2 separate regions of the Homo sapiens genome follow, and region 2 is linked to region 1. Evidence: fine-mapped expression QTL. A gene starts in region 1. The other region holds a variant in brackets. All regions are shown on one strand. Distances are between the middles of the regions.

Region 1 (2,924 bases):
CTGTGGAACTACAGTTCCCTGGATAGGTGCTGTATCTAGATTCATTTTTGATTTCATTGGGTCTTGCACAGTGCCTGGGAGCATTTATATACGTGGTCAGTAATTAAAAACAATTTATTTTTCCTACCTCTTAATAACTATCACAGTTGTTCAGTAATAGTTTTATTGGATAGAACTATGTTCAAGTATGTTCTAATTTATTCCCCTATCTGGAAAAATATGTATATTGTGAGAAAATAGGTTTGTCTTGCTTACATTATTATGTATCATATATTTTCATACTGGGGTTAACAAATATATTCTAAGCACCGAAACTGGTGGCCTTGAAAATGGCTAGACTAGCTGTTTCCTTTCATAGTCCAAACTGTGTGAATATAGCTAAATAAAAAATCTGGCTCTATTATAATAGCAAATGTGATTTTGTATGTGGAGTCTTAAGGCGTGATTATACTGTTTCTCACCATGAACAGTGATTTTTTACACATGATAAGGCAGGCTAGCAAATTCACATACATTACGGCTAGAATAATCCATTGCTTTAAAAACATGATTTTTACCTGCTTTTTAGATTGAGTGTTCTATAAAAATTTTTTCTTAAGTGAAAAAAATATGCAGAGGCTAATGTAGACTGTAAAATGAAGGAGAAGCTTAGCTTTACTGTGGAGTCTGGGTCTGGGTGTAACCTAACTAGCTAGAGGATATGCAATTCCTGATTGACAGCAGATCCAGCATTATGCAGATTTTGTAAGGGAGAACACTCAGCTCAGAAACAGTGATGAGAGGCTCTGTTAGGAATTACTACATTCACTACTCATATCTTTTAGTTTTCTGTCTACTGGATTTGTAAATAAATAGCACAAAACAGTTCCTCTTTTGTTTTTATTAAAGTGATACTGCAATGCAGTTCAGTCTGTCAGCTAGGCATACATGTGTGAAATTTGATATTCTCACTAAATTAGCTAATTTTTAGCTGTGTTCCATGCTTATCTCTAGACCTTTGTGTATTAAATCCTGTCTCGAGCTGTTCCCTTTATACACAAGTGTGTTTTGCTTGTGCCTTCCTGTCTTCTTCAGTGAGAAGCTTTATGTAGGTCAGGCTTGGCTTAAGCAGATTTCCTGAACCTGCGTCAGCTTAAGCTGGAGGAATTTTAATAAACCCTCCCCTGTAGGCGTGGGCCTAAATGAGGCTAGCCTAGTTAAGCCTGATCTTTTTCTGTTTGTGAAAAGAGCTGAGCAGAGCTGAAGGCTGCATGGTGGTTTCAGAAACTGCCTACTTAATTTGAAAAGAACAATGGTAGGAAAGGCTAGATCTTCCAATTTTACCTTATCCGAAAAGCTTGATTTGCTAAAGCTTGTGAAGCCATATGTGAAAATTCTCGAAGAACACACTAATAAACATTCAGTAATAGTAGAAAAGAATAGATGTTGGGATATCATAGCAGTTAACTATAATGCAATTGGAGTAGACCGCCCTCCTCGAACAGCACAGGGCCTACGCACCCTTTATAAAAGGCTCAAAGAATATGCCAAACAGGAGCTATTGCAGCAAAAAGAGACCCAATCAGATTTTAAAAGCAATATTTCTGAGCCAACCAAGAAAGTTATGGAGATGATTCCCCAGATTTCCAGTTTTTGCCTGGTAAGAGACAGGAACCACATACAAAGGTAAGCTTTATTTTGTTTTGTTATGGAAAATTATGGCGCCTCCTATCTATTGGGCTTTGGCTTAGTCGTGATAGAGATATGCATAGTAAGCATCCCCACAACGGGAGCAATGAATAGTGTCTTTGTTTTGCATTTTTTAAAAAGAGAAAAGTGAGGCTATGAGGAATTTTTCTGTTGCATTTAAGCTACTTTTTACTGTCTTCCCCTCCCCCTTCCCTCCTGTAGTTTCTAAAAGTAAAGGTTAGGGAGGAATAAGTGGGTTGAAATTTGTGACATCACTTCATAAACTTCTTAAGCTTTAAAATTAAATTATTTAGTTTGCTTCTGAGAGATACTTTTTTTCTCATTTAAGATTACATTTCACTGGAATTTTCAATTTTATATAAAATTTATATAAAGTTAGCAGTTTCTAGAGAAATGGAACCTTGCTTTTTTATGAATTGTCATTGTCTACACTTATTGAATATATGTTAACTAACAAATATAAACAAAATCAATAAGTAAACTTGTTAATGGCATGATTGTGTATATGAAGACAGTTTAAATTATTTTTCTAACACGTTTAAAATAAAGATGAACACAACTAAAGGGAGTTAATGCCTAATTAGGGATTCAGTTTACTTAATAAAATTAAAAGTTTTTTGTTGTTGTTGTTTTTATTCCTTAATAGTCTAGTTTCACTTTGATCTTGGGTCGTATAGGAAAGAGTAAGCTTTCTCTTACTGCTTTGCAAGGATATCAAATTATGAATTTTAAAATACCCCTAAGAGCAACTGGGTTTTTTTAGAGTTAGAAGCAATTTTTTGGTTAAACTTGTCTTCTATGTAACTATTTGCCTTGGAATTTTCAAAAGTATTATCTTGCCACTAATTCAGATTGTAACCTCTGGCAAAATATAAAAATGGCAGCTACATTCTTATTCTGAACCATTTAGGGTAATTTAAACAAATTGTAAACTCCTTGTTAGTTTGAGGAGCCTTTCAAACAAAGCTTTACACAATGTGCTTTTCTATTGGTGGAAGAGGCATTATATAAGCAAATTATTGATTACTATGAAATCCCTTTGAAATTAGGAGAGAAGCAGAAAAAAACCACTTTGTAGCCAAGTGCATATGTTATTTTGGTAATTTACTAGGAAAGTATTTTTGAGCCTAGCTTCTTACCAGATACTGCTTATTTCTACTTGATAGCACAGTAAAAAAAATATCACCAGTGGGAATCCAGGACATGAATACACAGTGGATTAATTCTTGGGGCCA
Region 2 (2,924 bases), 79 kb after region 1:
TATCTGAAGCTCTGCAAAAGAAAGAAATTTCAGAGCTTAAAGAGGAATCTCATGTACTTGCTTCTTATGAGAAATATTACCATAAAAATACCACTTCTGTCATCCAAGGGGGAGAAAGCTGTTTTCAGATGTAGGAGGGACGTCCAGTGGAACCTAATGGTTTGTCTAATTCTGGGCTTAAAAAGGACTTCATATTTGAAAAGTGATGTTTTCAGCAATCTTGGCCTATCCCAAAAGAACCAGAGTCTTCATCTTAATTAGATAAATAGAAAGCATCATTGCAATACGATGTTCAAAGCCCTTGGCTTGGAATCAGCAGATTTGGAGGTTCTAGTCAGAACTCTCCCATTGATTTGGCTTCTGATTGTATGGAAGTCTTAATTTTTACACTTTAATAATAATAATGAGTCATTCATTGATGGCTTACTATGTGCCAGACATTTTGCTAAATGCTTTATATGCATTATTTCATTTATTCCTCTTGTCAATCCTAAGACATGGGTATTATTATTATCCTCATTTTACAGGGAGGATACTGATGCCTAGAAAGGTTAAATGCTTCCCAAGAGCACAATGCTAAGAAGCTGGATCTGATCCCAGGTTGATGTGGCTATAGAACTTGTTTGTATGCACCAGCCTTAAATTCGCCAGCTAAATGAAAATTTAAGGAATATCTTATAGCAGTCATCAGTGTGATGAACTGTGGGCTTCTACCTTTTATGCCAGGATCACTTGTTCTCATATTAAGATATATTTACCAGGAACCTGATTTAAAAAATGCAAGGATTTAGGAGCTTATGAAAAAAAAAAGGAATAAAAGATAAGCAGAAAGATTAGGCCTGTTTGTTAAATAAATTTTAAAAAGGTTATATATGGTAGATTTTAAAGAAGTGATTGTTACTGAGGATACCCATGAAAAAGATTTGTTTTTTTATCTAATTATTTATCCTGATTAAAGAATGTGGTGGTCAAGAAATATCAGTAGGTAAGTTGGAAACAAAAAGCAAAGGGGAAAATACCATTTTGTGAGAATGGCCTGCTGGTGGCAGCAACAGATCACAACAATTGTCTCCCATCACATCAGGAATTCCAGGCATGTCTTTAAGCACACAGCTTCCTGTTTTATGAGATTTCAAATCACAGGCTGCTGTTATGATGGCTATAAAAACTGGCAAATCATTCTAGCTATCAATATGACTGACAGGATTATTTTCCACAGCATTTTATATTGTCAGAGCTTTACACTTATTGTCTCCCCATGGGTCGTGTTGGTAGGGGGGTGGGTATTAAATTATTAATTAAATGAAAAATGAGCAAACTTTAAAGTTTGATGGAAATAGTCTTGAAATCAGTGACACCTTAGTTATTAACTTCTGATTTTGTTGTAAGATGAATATAGGTTTAATAAACAGACTTTTGCACAGAATTATTTGTTTTTTCACTGTGATTTTTTTTGTGAGACCTCCAGTAACAATTTTTCAGTTCTCCATAAACATTATTAAAGGATTTTTTTGACTTAAATAGCTTTGAAAACACAAAACATTAATGTTTATTCCATAAGTAGCAGACAATGAAAACATATGTTTTAGTTACTGTATTTATGCCTGAGGAAATACCCATAAAGAGAA[A/G]TTCTCAACTGCTGCAGTGCCTGAGCCTTTGATGAAGGCCAGCCTCTGGTCACCAGGTGGAGCTGTTGACTCCTAGCAGTGCCTTCGGGGCCCAGGTGTAGAAGGGTCATGTGGTCGGACAGTGATGCTTTGACCTGGATGTTGCTTTCTGTCTGGGTAGCTTAGTACTGGAGGCTTCCATACATCTCAGCCTGGTTTCTGCTCCTAGGGTGGGAAGAGTTTGTGCTGCTGAGGAAGATGAATTAGAAGATCCACTCTTTTCGTTAGTACTGTGAGCAGACTACATCTGGGTTCCTGTAATGGAAGGAACAAATACTGAGGCTTCCAGAATGCTAAGTACCTTTTAGGTAAAAGGGGATCTGCTTGAAAGTTGGACCTGGGTGGAGCCCTTTATTGTGAGAAATATGATCGACCTTCCTGGACATGTTGAGACTTCAGTCATTCCTATATCTTGAGATGTTGACGGCACCAAGTGGGTGCTCGATATAGGTGAATTAAATGGATAAACGAGTGAATTAAACAAATAACAAAATGCAAGGTAACTCCTTTCATTTCCTCAGTAAGGGGCTCTATGTCTCATCTCATTCATTTATTAATTCATTTGCCATACAGTGTTTGAGAACTTACGATGTTCTAGGTTTTTTAAAAAACGCCGAAATTCAGAGATGCTTATTTTCATTTCTGCAGGTTCTGCCATCTATAATTTTGGTGTGAGGAATGAGTTAGGAATCTAAATTTTAGAAAACGGTTGCCCAATTGTAATAACACTTAAATAATCCATTCTTTCCCTATTGATTTTTCTGTTCTTGAACAGTATTTTAATTAATATGGATTTCAAGATTTATTATTATTTAGGAGATCAAATTCCTCTGTAGTATCCTTCTTTTTCAGTATTTTGTTGGTTACTCTATATCAGTTATTTTTCTGGATTAATCTTAGAATTATTTTGTCAATTAATTTTGAGAAAAAAATGAGATAATTTAGAGTATTCATCCAGGAATATGGAATGTCTCCCTAGATATTTATGTCTTCTTTTATGTTTCTAGGAAATGTTGTGTTGTTTTCATGTAGAAGAAAACATTCCTAAACATCACTGGCTTCCTTAATTAGTTTACATCTAGGTGCTCAGTCATCACCTCCTCAGAGTAGCCTTCCTAACCATTAACTGTACTATTTGTGTTTTTGTGGGTTTTTTGGTTTGTTTTGTTCTTTTTCTTTAAGAAACAAGGTCTCACTTTGTTGCCCAGGTTGGTCTCCAACTTTTGGTCTCAAGCAATCCTCCCACCTTGGCGTCCC

Direction of the effects. Alleles are on the strand shown, and positions count from the first base shown. SD is a standard deviation of normalised expression in the study named.
For the expression in subcutaneous fat of the gene that starts at base 1,216 in region 1, allele G in region 2 goes with a higher level than allele A (moderate effect, 0.52 SD a copy in GTEx).

The links. PIP is the estimated chance that this variant, and not a neighbour inherited with it, causes the effect.
Region 2: its variant is fine-mapped to the expression of FSBP in subcutaneous fat (GTEx, PIP 0.98).

What each region holds. Positions count from the first base shown.
Region 1 is chr8:94,435,236-94,438,159 of GRCh38, reverse strand. FSBP (fibrinogen silencer binding protein) reads left to right here and starts at 1,216. Exons shown (of 2, transcript NM_001256141.2): 1 at 1,216-1,665. The coding sequence starts at 1,292. The region is part of intron 3 of RAD54B (RAD54 homolog B); the gene reads left to right. RefSeq lists an enhancer at 2,860-2,924.
Region 2 is chr8:94,356,032-94,358,955 of GRCh38, reverse strand. No RefSeq gene overlaps it. Among named protein-coding and RNA genes, the nearest start is that of FSBP, 79 kb to the left of the region's middle. The variant A/G (reference allele first, on the strand shown) is at 1,629.